2 linked regions of the Homo sapiens genome follow. The protein of the gene in region 1 interacts with the protein of each later gene in a biochemical or structural test. Each region holds a gene or a part of one and is shown on either strand. Other genes may lie near its edges.

Evidence for each region. Proteins that work in one complex are often made in the same cells at the same time.
Region 2: the proteins of NFE2L1 (region 1) and MAFG form a complex in vitro, tested with the Homo sapiens proteins (2 studies listed by BioGRID and IntAct, with this or other methods).

Annotation. Positions count from the first base shown.
Region 1 is NC_000017.11:48,043,795-48,051,358, reverse strand, and holds the start of NFE2L1 (endoplasmic reticulum membrane sensor NFE2L1), read right to left. Parts: upstream 3,001-7,564; 5' UTR 2,897-3,000; intron 2,579-2,896; exon of another isoform or gene 2,495-2,578; intron 753-2,494; 5' UTR 241-752; coding exon 1-240.
Region 2 is NC_000017.11:81,917,758-81,924,743, reverse strand, and holds the end of MAFG (transcription factor MafG), read left to right. Parts: exon of another isoform or gene 1-976; intron 977-1,277; exon of another isoform or gene 1,278-1,391; intron 1,392-1,511; exon of another isoform or gene 1,512-1,529; 5' UTR 1,530-1,558; coding exon 1,559-1,594; exon of another isoform or gene 1,595-1,686; coding exon 1,687-2,139; 3' UTR 2,140-6,474; downstream 6,475-6,986. Other genes in the region: SIRT7 (NAD-dependent protein deacetylase sirtuin-7), read left to right, coding at 6,613-6,705, 6,777-6,914. UniProt on the Homo sapiens protein: Since they lack a putative transactivation domain, the small Mafs behave as transcriptional repressors when they dimerize among themselves.

The DNA of each region.
Region 1 (7,564 bases):
GGCAGTGAAGTAATTGTCCAGGTCTATGCTCTTGGGGTGGATACCATAGCCATCCAAGGTATTCCTCAGGTTGTGGAACTGGGTCTGAGTATAGGCAGAACTGGGCCCCAGGATGATCTCCCGGAGTGGGGGAAGCTGTGAGGTCAGGTAAGTATCCACGTCCACCCGTACCCCAATCAAACTCAGCAGAATGGTGAACTGGAGAAGTCCTTCCGTTAAGTATTTCTTCAGAGAAAGCATTGCTGAAGGACCAGAATGTTTATGCTTTTTGGTTTTTAAAATCTTCCAAAAGACAAATCAAGGCCACTGCTCTGCCGCTCCAGCCAGCAGGTTACCCTCCTCAGTGTCAAACCCCGTACCCCACCCTGGCAGAACACAAGGGATGAGCTCCCTGACGGCCCCAGAGGAAAGCACACCCTGTGGAGCCAAGGCCAAGGACACACTCCAGACCACATTCACTTTCCCTTCTCGACACCTCACCTCTGAAAGTACAACTGTTCCTAACCCAGTCCAGGTCCTCAAGGGCCCACGTGACTTACTTTCTCCACAGTCCACATACAGTCACTTCCTCACTCACATTAGTTGTCCTCTCTGTAGATTCCAATGCAGGCTGTTCTCAGGAACAGCTGATGGATTTTTTTTTTCCTTCTCCCTCCTAAGGTTTATTTTCTTTGGCTGGAGCTACAGGCCTTTCGTCTTGGGTCAGAGTGTCCCGCCTCCTCCACACTTACCAGGGGGGTTTCCAGAGAAACCTGAAATGGGAATCACAAAAGCAACAGGATAAGATTCCATACTTTTCACATCATGATCAGGGTAGGAAAACCTTCACAGTAGAAGGTAGAAAACACATTCAAAGGACACTTTCACTTTTTTTTTTTTTGAGACAGAGTCTCACTCTGTCGCCCAGGCTAGAGTGCAGTGGCGTGATCTGTGCTCACTGCAACCTCCACCTTCTGCATTCAAGCGATTCTCCTGCCTCAGCCTCCCAAGTATCTGGGATTACAGGCGCCTGCCACCACGCCCTGCTAATTTTTGTATTTTTAGTAGAGATGGGGTTTCACTATGTTGGCCAGGCTGGTCTCAAGCTCCTGACCTCAGGTGATCTGCCCGCCTCGGCCCCCCAAAGTGCTGGGATCACAGGCGTGAGCCACTGTGCCTGGCCTAAAGGCCACTTTTACAGGAAGAAAGGACTACTTACACTCTCAGAAAAAAAACCCAAAATATAGCAACCGATCATAGAAGAACTATCAAAGAAAGCTACTGATCACGAATGATCTCAGTTACTGAATATTAAATGTGCAATATCCTAAAATGTAGCTTGGTTTGAATAAGCAGACAATAACCAGGTCATCCAAAATATCTTACACCTTTGTTTTATTTACCAGCCCTCCTCCCCCACTACAGGCGCATTACCCAGCTTCTATTTTCACATGAGAAGCCCATTTCCTGTCTTAAAAGTAAAGCTGGATTTTCACCCCTCGGGAGAAAACCACCCATAACAGTTGTCTTTTCTCAGTTCAAAAAGGCAAGATTATTAAACAGTGAGAGTGTGGAAGGACAAAAGGACAATGTTCAGGCCACCACTTCACCCAGAAGAAGAATGCCTTTTGTTTTCTGAACTTTGAAATCTGATTTCCCTTTCCTATCCTCACAACTTACAAAAGAAAAAAAAGGAAAAGGGCCGACGCCTGTAATCCCAGCACTTCGGGAGGCCGAGGAGGGCGGATCACCCGAGGTCGGGAGTTTGAGACCAGCCTGAACAACATGGAGAAACCCCATCTCAACTAAAAATACAAAAATTAGCCGGGCGTGGTGGCGCATGCCTGTAATCCCAGCTACTCGGGAGGCTGAGACAGGAGAATCGCTTGAACCCAGGAAACGGAGGTTGTGGTGGGCCGATATCGCGCCACTGCACTCCAGCCTGGGCAACAAGAGCAAAACTCCGTCTCAAAAAAAGAAAAAAAAGAAAGAAAAGAAAAGGAAAGAAAAAAAGGAGAGGGATGGTGGGGGCCCTACTACGCAGGACTATTCCGTCCAGAATTTGCATAGGCAGGTTTTATTTTCATTCATATGACCTTCTGAGCCAAAGCAGAAGGATATGGCCACGTTCTCTAGCCAGACTGCCCAGTGCAGAGGAAGTAAATCTGTTTCTGGTCTCCACTTTTGAGCTTCCATTAATGTCACAAACCAAGACATACCGCCTCTCCTCTCCTGCGTTGTGACCCATCTACCAACTTCATTCTACAGGGGGAGAGCGAGCTATACGTACACACACGAACGTGCGCACACACACACACTCACACTCCCTCTCTCTGGTCAGAGTAAACACAATTGCGACCCAGAATTCCTGCTTACGCTACCCTCCCGTTCTCACGCAATTTATTACTAAAACCTCCCAGGAGCCAATTAAGTTCGAGGAACCGGACAAAGTCCCTTAAAAATCAAGTAGGTGCAGGGCCCATAGCCTGAGGCTGGTCCCACCCTGCCCGGATACCCGAGTCCGGCTGAGACCAAGTCGCCATGCCCACTCTCGGCGCCGGAGCTTCTAGCCTCCAGGGGCGGCCAGCGAACAAGTGCTACTTCCCTGGCCTTGACCCACCCTTACAGCAAACCCCACCCCGCCCTCCGTCCCGATGGCCCCACCCCACTCCCAAGTCCAGGCCTCACACCACGCCTTCTCGTGCCCTCAACCCTGCCCAGTCCATCCCACCCCGGAGCCAGCTTTCCTCTCGGCCCCGCGCGGGGCCCCTCCCTGTCAGGCCCAGGGCCGGGCTCTGGCGGGAACCCCGCTCGGCCCCCGCCTCCTGCACCTCAGCACCATCCCGTCGCCCCATAAGCCTCGGCCCCGCGGCGCTGCAACCCTCCCTTCTGGGAAAGGAATGTGCCCGATACCCACTGCTTAGCTCGGCGTCCGCCGCTGCCTCCACAGCAGGCCCTAAGCCCGAGTCCCGGCCTCGCCGCCGCCACCGCCGGCCGGCCTAGAGCTCGGAGCCTCCGCTTACCTCCCCGCCCCCTCCTGCTACCGCACTCGGAAACCCGCCCGCCGCAAACACCCTAGGAACAGTTTCTCCAATCAACGAGCCGAGGCCGGGGCCGTCGACGGATGTCCCTCTGATTGGCAGCAGAGAGGGCCCAATGGCTGAGTGTACCTCCTCATCCCCGGACCTGATTTCCCAAGACTGACATAATTCCCGGCCCAATGAGTACCTAGGCCCGCCCCGCGGTATGGACCCACCAATGAGGAGGGCGAAGGCCCTAGTGTCTGGCATTCTGGGCCCCTCGGCCGCGCCTTCGCGGCGGGCGATGTTAGTGGGCTTGGGCGTTGGGTGAAGTATCCAGGTTGGGCGCTTCCAGCGCTTTCTGTGGCGGGGGAATGAAGGCCTAGGTCAGGGAATAGGAAGGTGTATCGCCGCCAGAGTGCGGAACACCCTCGCCTTGAGGGTTCCCACAGTGACTTGCAAAAGTCTAGTGAGACCCGAGAATGCTGAGGCGGGACACGAAGCATGTGGTTCTTGTGGTTGCGACGCTCGTGCCGCCATCTTGGGTGCTGGCGGCGGAAACCGGTACCCCAACTTCCCCTCGGTGCGAACCTGGAGAAGCCACCCCAGCTGTGAGGGACGGTTGCGCCTCATGGCCCAGGCAAGGGTACCTTCGCTGGAGCAGTACCGCGGACGGATATCATGAGGGTGGTGGGACGTTGGCGGAACGTTGGCGGAACGTTGGCGGTGTGAGAGGTGTGGGGTAATGGCGATTTTTGTCATGGTAGAAACAGCCCAAAGGACCCCCCTCGTTTGGCCTCCCACGCAGCTTAGTCTTGCTTTTTTAGGGATGTTTCTCATTTTTTAATTTCTCCAGTCCCATCTGGTTATATTGCCAAAACATGTTTGTGACTCTCAAACGTTAGTTTACTCCCAGCATCACTTGGGGAGCTTGCTAAGCTACGAATTCCGAGGTCCCACTGGAGAGTCTGATTTAATGACCCTGGAGTGGCGGCCGGATAACCTGCCTGCTGGGGTGATTTTAACGCAGCTGATGCGAAGACCCCATTTAGGGAATCATTGGGTTGGCGTTTGCAATGCGTTCCTCCCAGCTATAGGACAAAGAGGTGTCAACTCAACTGTGTCTTCTTAGAAGAGCCCATTATTTATAGGTGAGTCATTAGTCCCTGTACAACTAAGGACAAGGCCAACTGATAACTCAGTAAATAATCGAGTCCATTTTGTGCTTGCGAGTTAGGGGCTTAATTTGGGGTGGTTTGCAGATTAAGTACTTTCACTGCATATAATAAACGTACACCAGCAAACCACTCATGGAATTCTTAAAAAAACTTCTGAGCTAGTTTACCAGTTTCAAAGACTAATTCAGAGAGCATGTTTTACCTATTCTAGGCTGGACTGGAACTCCTGGACTCAAGCGATCTTTCCATTTATCAGGGACTACTGACGCGTGTCTCCCAATAAATACCTGAGTATAAACAACATGAGGACTAGAATTTTGTGCGTTAACTGTTATAACTTAGTAGACACTCAAATACTGAGTACTTGAAGGGGGACTCAAGCAGGCAGGCCTCTGATTTTCCTGTTAAAAGCAGAAATTAACCACACCTTGGAGGATGTACAGTTTTGAAGGATATGGCATGTTAACAATAAAATAGGAGACCATTCAGTCCCCGAAGTAGTGAGACAATGAAGATAAAGACTGGTATTGTATAAGAAAGGAGGAATATTTAGGTGTGGCCATCAACTCTAAAAATAAATAAGGTTGAGAAGGAAGTATTTTAAACATAGAACTGGGCCCGGCGCAGTGGCTCACAGTAGCACCTTGGGAGGCCGAGGCGGGAGGATTGCTTGACCAGCCTGGGCAGCATAGTGAGACCCCCGTCGCTACAAAAAAACAAGCTGGGCTTGGTGCCACACATCTATAGTCCCAACTACTCAGGAGGCTGAGGTGGGAGGATTTCTTGAGCTGGGAGATTGAGGCTGCAGTGAGCTATGATGGTGCCAGTCTGGGCAACAGTGAGATGCTTCCTCAACAAAACAAAACATAAAATTGAGAGATATAAAGGCTCAACTACAGTGTTTAACTACAAGACAATTTTGAGAAGGTGAAAAGAGCATACTAAAGTTGGTCTTTTTTTGACAGAAAAATACAGAACAATTTTCAGTCCTAACAGTTCAAACTAAAACTGGACAATCGTTTATCTGTGGAGTTTCCTGCTTAGCCATTTCACAAAGGTGGGCAGAAAAAGGGAAAGAGTTGCAAGGGCCGAAGAGAGTAAAGGTGTAGAGACAAACTCAGTCGCAACAGCAGGCCTAGGCCTGGCAGGGTGTGGGCGCCCAGGATATTTGATGCTCCATGGAAGGGAGTGGAGACAGAAAGACTGTCTTCCATTCTGTCTAGAGTTCCAGATCAAGTCTGAGCAGGTGCAAGCTTTCCCAGAACCTGCTGATTAACCTTGTAAAACCCAGGGTGTGTCCTTCTTCACCCAGGAAGCCACCCCCTCCTTTCCCCCAACACTCTCCCCCTCCCTTTGCCTGGGACAGCTGTTAATAGGACAGTTACCCAAGAAGCAAAAGAAGGATCCCATGCTGATGTGTCATCAGTCCCGGTATATCCATTAAATCAGACTGAGAAGACCACTGGAAAAAGTGAGCGCATGCATGTGGCTCCCTAAGGGAAAGGCTGGCAGCCATTGTAAAACTAGGCCTTGCCCCTGCGACTCCAGGCTGGGCAGGAGAGAGAAGAAGGCAGTGGAAGCCGAGAAGAGGGTTAGGTCTAAAGCACACGGATTTGGGGCCAGCTAACTATAAAACATACACGGAAATCCCCACCCCCACCCCAGGAATAGCAGTGTAGTGTCTACCGACCCAGCTTCCCTGGTAGGAAAAGCTGCTGCTGCCGCCAACAGCCACATCCATCCTGCAGTCATCCCTGGAGGATGACACATGCCAGGAATCCTCAGAGAAGGGGCTGTGGGAGGGCAGGCTGGCTGGGGCTCTGATTTCTTCTGGAACAGTGAAATTGCTTTTTCCCTAAAAGGGAAACCCAGGCTTTCTGCCATTCTGGTTGTCCATTATCTTTCCTCTAAAAATGTCTCTAAGGCCAGGCACAGTGGCTCACACCTGTAACCCCAGCACTTCGAGAGGCCCAGGTGGGCAGATCACTTGAGCCAGGAGTTTGAGACCAGCCTGGCCAACATAGTGAAAACCCATCTCTACAAAAAAAATACAAAAATTAGCCAGGCGTGGTGGTTCATGCCTGTAGTCCTAGCTAGTGGGGAGGCTGAGGTGGAAAGATCACCCGATCCTGGGGAGGTTGAGGGTGCAGTAAGCTGTGATTGCGCCATTGCACTCCAGTCTGGGCAACAGAGTAAGACCCTGTCTCAAAAAAAATAATAAAAAGAAAAACATGTCTTTAAGTTTTGCTAATCCATATAAGTATTTCTTACTCTGTAACCTCATCTAATCCAGGGGAATAGATTAGATAGATGATTGCCTGAGATTTCCTTACAGTCCTGAGAGATGGTAGGAATACATCATGTCAATACTAAATGTTAGCATGTTTTGCAAAGAAATCAATTAGTTTTCTGGCAAATCCGGACATATGGCCCTCTCTCTTATATGGTAAACATCATCAGCAAGCTTGTTACCATTAAACCACCAAAAAGTAAAGCTCTCCTGCAAGCCAGCCTCTTTCCTATGCACCACTACCACACTCTTAGAAGATTGCTTCTCAATCCTGGCTGCATATTAGAATCACCCAGGTGGGTAGCTCGTAAGAAATACCAATGCCCAGGTCCCACCCCACACCAATTAAAACAGCTGCCCAGAGCAGAATTGGACATCAGTATTTTGTAAAAGCTCTTCAGGTGATTCTTATGCACAGCCAGAGTAGAGAATCACTAGGTTGGAGCAAGAATCCACATTGGGGTAAAAAAAAAAAAAAAAAAAAAAAAGCAAAAGATTGTGGTAATACGGGAACACAGACTAGAATGATTATCTGACTTTTTTTTTTGAGATGGAGTCGCTCTGTGGTCCAGGCTGGAGTGCAGTGACACCATCTCAGCTCACTGCAACCTCTGCCTCCCCAGTTCAAGCGATTCTCCTGCTTCAGCCTCCTGAGTGGCTGGTATTAAAGGTGCACACCACCACGCTTGGCTAATTTTTGTATTTTTAGTAGAGACAGGGTTTTGCCATGTTGGCCAGGCTGGTCTCAAACTCCTGACCTCAAGTGATCTGCCCACCTCAGCCTCCCAAAGTGCTGGGATTACAGGCGTGAGCCACTGCACCCGGCCCGTTTGACTTTTAGGGTGTGCTCATTCTCAACCCTAAAATGTTCTTTCTTCACCTCTACAATGAAAATGCCTCATTGTTCATTAGTGTCTTAGTGTAACATTTTTTGAAGCTGAGTTCAACTGTCCTGTATGTCTTGCTATGTTGTCTCAAACAATACCAGGTAGTGTTCTTCATATAGCTCTGTGTGACATGTCACACTCAAGGAGCTGCCATTAAGAGGTAGGAGGAGTGGATGTTTTGGACTCATAGGTGGGTTCGAAAATCTGGCT
Region 2 (6,986 bases), about 34 Mb from region 1:
GGGCTCCTGTGGGCCTTCTGACCTCCAGCTCAGGTCTTCCCCATCCTTTATCTGGAAGAATCCAGTGGCTGGAGCCTCGGGACCTTGCCTCTGAGCTGGCTTGGCTGTGGGGAGGGGTCTCTGGCCTCCCCTCCCTGCTCTGTGCTTGCAGCCTCACCTCCTGGTCCCAGGCTGGGTGAGGTGGAGTCTTGAGCCTGGTGAGGATGTGTGCATCCGCCTGGCCACACTTCAGCTCCCCTGATGAGAGTAAGAAGCCCCCCAGCCCATAATTTCCTGAAGTGATCCTAGCTCCTCTGGAGGAGTCTCCCATCTGTCTGCATCAAACCTGGAAAGTGGGGGATGGAGCATGAGGCGGGGGTCCATGCCCAAGGGTCTGGTGGGAGCTGGGCTGAGCTGGGAATCCCAGAAACATCCTTAGCAAGAAAGTGAGAGCAGAGTGCTGGAGGGACCCCGAGTGGGGAAGAGTTGGTTGTTAAGTCCGGCCACCCCAGCACTTTTGTTTTTGCTCCCTGGCCCTGTGGGCACTCACCCGGGGCAGGGACCAGAGAGCAGGCTGCAGCTCGGAGGGGCTGACTCCGCCAGCCTTCACGTTGGGCAGGCCCGGGGTGGCTCACTGTGGGAGCCCTTGTGAAATACCCTGGATGGGGTGGGGCAGGGGCTGCTTCCTGCAACCCAAAGCCACAGGATGGTTACTCCATCAGTGGAGGAGGCCGACTGGGAGGTCTAGAGGGGCCTCGGGCCAGGCTCCTCCCAGCTGATGGCCTGCCACCTGGAAGGTGGGGGAACTCCCTGGTCAGTCCTGCCAACAGACCAGAGCTAGATGGACGGCCCACCCCCAGCTTTTCAAAGTTAGGAGGCTGGGAGACTCGGGGTTCCCTGTAGCCTCCTCTCTGGCCAGGTCCCCCGTGGGGCCCCTGTGCACCCAGGGAGCAGGGGGCTTTGTCCGAGGCCGGCTCAGGGGAGGTGGCTGTAGAAGGTAGGACCCTGGAAGATGCACACACAGGGTCACTGGCTGGCCCTCACCTGCTATTGGCCAGGCTGGGGGCTGCGGCTCTCGTGGGGCGCTGTTGGCTGGCGGGCCAGGGAGTGCGGGCGCGGCGGGGAGGCAGAGGCAATGTGCTGAGTCAGCGTGACTCGCCAGGAACAGCCGCGCTCTGGGCAGTGCCGGGGTTATTTTTAAAGCTCCCGGCTTCCTTCTAGGCCTGCCTCTCCCGCGTCTTATTCCTTCTAATCTCTCCCCTGCCCCTTGTCTTGCGCCTGCCTTCCTAACAGCCTTCAGTTCCCCTTCTCCCGTCAGACCTTCCTGACCTCCCACCTGGTTCTCTAGGGGCAGGGTGGACAGGAAGCAGCTCAGCCCAGCCTGGGAGAGGCCAAGGGCTGCCTCCTATCAGGTATTGGGGGCTGGGCACCTGGACAGCAGGCTGGGGCGGGCTGTGCGGCAAGGGCTCTTGTGAACTGGGCCGGGGGCGGGGGGGGGGGGGTGCGGCGAGGGTGGTCTCCAGGGTACTGACCTGCTCCGTGTCTTGCAGAGAGCGCCTGCTCGCTGTGCCCCCGGGTTATGACGACCCCCAATAAAGGAAACAAGGCCTTGAAGGTGAGTGGGCAGGGACAGGAGCCTGTGGGCTGGGGTCGGGGGGCACAGTGGGCGTGCCCGCTTGGCCTGTGACCACCTGCACTGTGCCCCAGGTGAAGCGGGAGCCGGGTGAGAATGGCACCAGCCTGACGGATGAGGAGCTGGTGACCATGTCGGTGCGGGAGCTGAACCAGCACCTGCGGGGCCTGTCCAAGGAGGAGATCGTCCAGCTGAAGCAGCGCCGGCGCACGCTCAAGAACCGCGGCTACGCTGCCAGCTGCCGCGTGAAGCGGGTGACGCAGAAGGAGGAGCTGGAGAAGCAGAAGGCGGAGCTGCAGCAGGAGGTGGAGAAGCTGGCCTCAGAGAACGCCAGCATGAAGCTGGAGCTCGACGCGCTGCGCTCCAAGTACGAGGCGCTGCAGACCTTCGCCCGGACGGTGGCCCGCAGCCCCGTGGCGCCAGCCCGGGGCCCCCTTGCCGCCGGCCTGGGGCCCCTCGTCCCAGGCAAGGTGGCCGCCACCAGCGTCATCACAATAGTAAAGTCCAAGACGGATGCCCGATCGTAGGGACGCGCGTCTGCCCAGGCGGGTCTTTGCGGGGCCACTAGGCACATGGCGAATTTGGCTGCCCTGTCCCTCTGTTTCCTTCTCTTCTCTTTCCTCCCTCTCTTCCCCACCCTTCTCTCTTCCCTGCAAAGCACAACCTGTACCCCAGGGGCGCCGGGCTGAGCCCCTTTGATCTCGTCATTGTCGTCGTGTGTTTTGTATGTTGGGATTGGTCAGTTCGGCGGTGACGTGGGGTCGCCCCAACCCCTTTTGTACCAGGGCCATGCAGGCTTGGAGTCCAGAGTTGGTGCTGTGGGAACGGACTAGAGAGAGTTGCGGGAGAGAGAAGGAGCAGGCACGCTGGGCCTCGCGTGTCCCCGAGCAGTGAGGGTCCCAGTGTTCCCTCCACTCCCGAGTGGCCACAGGCTCGCGGGCTGGGAAGGATTCACTCTCTTTAGCCCCAGGGGAGCAGCTCAGCTTAGCCCAGCATGAAGAGATGGGCTCTGCTCTGAGAGTAGGGCGGGCTTGAAGGCCCTGATGGGTGGACCACCAGCCTGGGCGCAGTGGTGCTGGGGGCGTGCAGCTGGGCCCAGGGGCTGTGCACTCAGGCCTGACCCGTTGCACTGAACAAGACCAAATCTCTGGTTGTGCGCTTAACGTGAGGGTGGGTCCAGTGTGCCCTGCGATGGGTCCCGTGTCACTGTTTACATGACCTATTTGTGTGGTTATATAGCCCTTTATTTAAAAGAGAGAAGTTCCTTTTACAAAGTTATTAAATTAATTATATGTTTAAAAGTTAAAGAAAAAAGAGCTGCAGAGTATTTATAAAACTGTCTTTTAGAAAAAAAACAAGCAAGAAGACCATTTGACCATATGAATGGAAAAGGGAAGAAAGTATAATAGAAACTTTGCTAGTTAAAAAAAAAAGAAAAAAAAAGAAAAAAAATCCCTTTCTTGTAAACTTACGGACACCTCTTTGTGGCTGTTGGAGTTTAGTTTTTATATACACAGAGTTATCAGACATTATTTATAAAACTTAGTTTAAAAAAAAGACAAAAAAAAAAAAGCCAAGCCGTGAGCCGACCAGAAGGCCGTCCTCTTTGATATCTTTTGCAATTGTACCGAAAGTGACTTACTCCTCTGCCCTTCCTGCTTCCGTCTCTTGCCGGTGCCGTGGTGTCGTCCGTGCCTGGTGAGGTTTTGTGCAGCGGTAAAGTGCTGGTGCTTCTGGTGACCTTTGACCTGTGGGTGTCACTTCTTGTGTCTGTTTTCCCGTGTTCGTTTTTTGGGTTTAGTTGTGCTTTTGCTTCTGCTGGCTTGCTGGACCTGGGCTGGGGTGCCAAGTGGCGCCTGCTGCGTCAGAGCTCAAGGAATCTGTGCCCACCACCAGCTCCTGGTCCGTAGGAGGTGAGACATGGGGTTCTGTCATGCCCCCCTCCACTGAGCCTTGGCTACATCTGTGTCTAGGGCTTGGGCTGATCTAGTGGCGGGGTAGGTGAAACTGGGGTCCCTTGGGGCGCCCCACGCTGCTTCCACACCCACCACCTCTGGCCTTGGGTGGTGGCATTACAGGGATGAGGGAGTCACTGTGGGTGGCCACAGGGCTATGGCCAAGCGTTCCCTGGCCGTCTTCCTCTGGCCTCAGCTTTGTTCCTATAGGCTGCCCGCGCCGTGGGCTGCAGGTCTCGCCGCCCGCTTGATCCCTGAGGTGTTTCCATGCTGCGGGTGGTGCTTCCAGGCAGAGTGGGTGGGGGCCCACCGGGCACCGCCCTTTCTTCCTTGTCCCTGCCTCACTCTGAGAGCCTTGGGGGTCTCCACCAGTGCAGACAAGGGCTACAGTCTCCAGGGCCGGGTCTTGTCCCTCTTCTCCGCTGGTCCACGCTGGCAGCTCTTGGCTTCGGGCCTGCCTTCTGCCTCCCTTTGGGATCTGTGTCTTCCAGGGATCAGCTGCTTGGCTTCTGCTGGAGGTGCCTCCCTGTGGGGGCGCAGCCTGCCTCCTGCTCTCAGTTCCTCGCCAGAGGCTGCTGCCCTTCCTGGCTGGGCTCAGGAGGCTCCTTGTAGGCATATGATGGGGAGGGGGTGCCCCTACCCACCTCCAAGAGGCTACAGCCCTGTGTCTGGCCATGTGAGCCCTGGCCTTTCACCGGGTTGCTGGTTTCTTTTCTGTGGGGCCCAGACTTCTGTAAAGCACACAGATGTGGGTAAGATGAAAAACTGTGGCCCAACAGGGCTTAACCCTATGGATGGTGGGATTTTTATCCAATAGTTTGGCCTGGTGTGCCCACAGGATGGGAACAGGGAGGCACCATCAACACTTGTCATGTTAATGAGCTTTTCTTTGCTCGAGGTGTTCAGAGACAAGTCCTGTGTCTACCTGCGTCAGCCTGAAAATGGAAATATTGGCTGTTGACTCTTGTCATTTAGTGACTTCATCCCCCTCCCCTCAGTCTGATCTTGTCTAAGTAGAATCCAGGCGTTAGTTGGAATCATATCATAAGTATCCATGAAGAAAACGTCATGATCTGCCTCGGAGTGGGGAGAAACAGGCCCTCCTTGTCCTTGTGCAGCCCCCACTTTTGTCCTGGCTGTGGGTGGCCATCCATTTTGAGCACCTCTGCCAGGCTGCAGACCTGGAGGCGAAGGGAGTGTGGAAGAGGAGGGTGTAAGGGTCGACGCGTGCTGAATGGGAGGTGCAGGTCCTCGGTGCGTTGGCAGAAGAGGCTTCTGGAGTTTCGAGGCCATACCTCCTTTCAAGAGCTTTGGATTTGGGGCGACTTCCCTGGGTCTAGGGGAGTGTTCCTGTCCCCTGTCAGGTCAGCCCTGCGGAGCCACTCCACCCCTCTTCCCCTTCCCCTGGATTTCCTGACATAGATGGTGTGTTCATGTGCAGGTGTGAGTGTGCTGTCCTTCTGATCTCTGTTGATCCCGCTTTCCTACTGAGAGGGTGGTGGAGAGGGTGGTGGTCTCTTCTCACCTCAGTTTTTCTGACACAGCGAATCGAGGGCTTTGGCCAAGGCCAGGTCTCTCAAACTTGTCCGCCAAGTAAACCATGATATATGTCTTCCCTTCCACCTTAACTTTGCCCCAACTCCTCTTTTATCCTAACATGGACGCTCAGATTTCAGAGGAATACCCAGCAGGGACAGGTCAGCTCTCACCAGGAGAGTGAGGCCCCTGGCTGCTGCTCGGGGTGGCACTGGTGTTGCTGGCTCAGCTCTTGGTGCATGTTTCAGATATGTGTGTACACTTCTGACTGGTGATCAGGGCCCGGCCCACGGCCCTGAGCGGCTGCAGCCTGCTTTGGGACGATGGTCAGGTCCCATGTTGTCCCTGCTGCCTCCCTCTGGAGTGGCCACTTGGCCAAAGCGCCCATCCACATCTGGAAAGTCGGAGCCGCAGCCTGCTGCACCGTTTCCGCTCTGGGATCTTGTGAGTTACTTTTTTAGGCTGTGGTTTGGTGAAAGGAACCAACACATTAACGATTTTTCCCCCAGAAGCCACTGAATAATTCTTTTTGGTGTATTTTTGCCTTCCTGTTGGCTGTCTGGCCTTGGAGCAGGTCGGGAGAGTAGAGTACATAATCAGTGCCACACAGAGGCAGGGCGTGTCTGAGAGACTAATGCCTGTCCTGCCTCTGGCCTGTGTCCTGGGTGTGTACCATACCTGCTGGGCCAGTCCCACACATTTCCACCCTGCCCCTGGAGCAGCAGCTTTGATACCATGGGTGTCCCTTGAGTCTGAGCTAGAGTGTGTCCCCGATAAACTGTGAGACCTCCCTGTTCTTGGTGACCCCAGTTGGGCTTTGGCCCCTCCAGCAACCTTGTGTCCCAGCCCTGCCCTTCTTCCCACCCCCTCAATCTGCTAGTCCCTGAAGCCTTTAACCAAACGGGAGTGGGCACAGAAAGCCTTCTCCTGGCAACAGGACAAGGGCTGCCCGCGTGTCCAGCCCTGTTGCTCTCCTGGCGCTGAGAGGTGGGTCCAAGCAGAGTTGATCAGTCCCTGCCTGCCCTGCCTAGGTCTAGCCAGGGGAGGTTGTGTGTGTGGGAGAAGACCCCGGGATCTGCTGGGGTGGGATGGAGGTTATTAAAGATCTAAGTGAGGAGGGGCTGGGGTTTGGATGCGGGGTGAGGCCCGAGCGCTCACACTTCGTGTAGGGCGGGCAGGGGCCTGACCTCTTGCAGGGCAGTGGCCTTGGTGCCCTACCCCTGCCCTGCGCAGTATTTATTGCTAAATTATTGTCCAGGAGGGGCAGCACTGGGCCTGGCCCCCCGGGTATTTATTGCTGTACATAGTGTATGTTTGTGATATATAAGGTTTTCTTTATTTTGTATATGATCAATAAACCTTTTAAAGAGACTGGCAGGTGCTTCTTTGGGGCGACGCGGCGGGCGGAGCCGGAAGGGGTGGGTGGGGGCGGGGCCCATCTTGCGCATGCGCCCTGAGCGCGGCCTGCCGTGTGAGGCGGAAGCGGAAGAGCAGGTCTCCAGGGGAGCGATGGCAGCCGGGGGTCTGAGCCGCTCCGAGCGCAAAGCGGCGGAGCGGGTCCGGAGGTTGCGGGAGGAGCAGCAGAGGGAGCGCCTCCGCCAGGTACGCCGCCGCCGCTCCCCGGCCCGGCCATGCCCGGCCCGCGCCGCCGCTCACCGTCCGCCTGCCCGCAGGTGTCGCGCATCCTGAGGAAGGCGGCGGCGGAGCGCAGCGCCGAGGAGGGCCGGCTGCTGGCCGAGAGCGCGGACCTGGTAACGGAGCTGCAGGGCCGGAGCCGGCGGCGCGAGGGCCTGAAGCGGCGGCAGGAGGAGGCGAGTTCCGCGTGCGGCGCGCGGGCGCCCCCGGTTTCGGGAGCAGCTGGGGCGACGGGCGGTCCCGGGTGG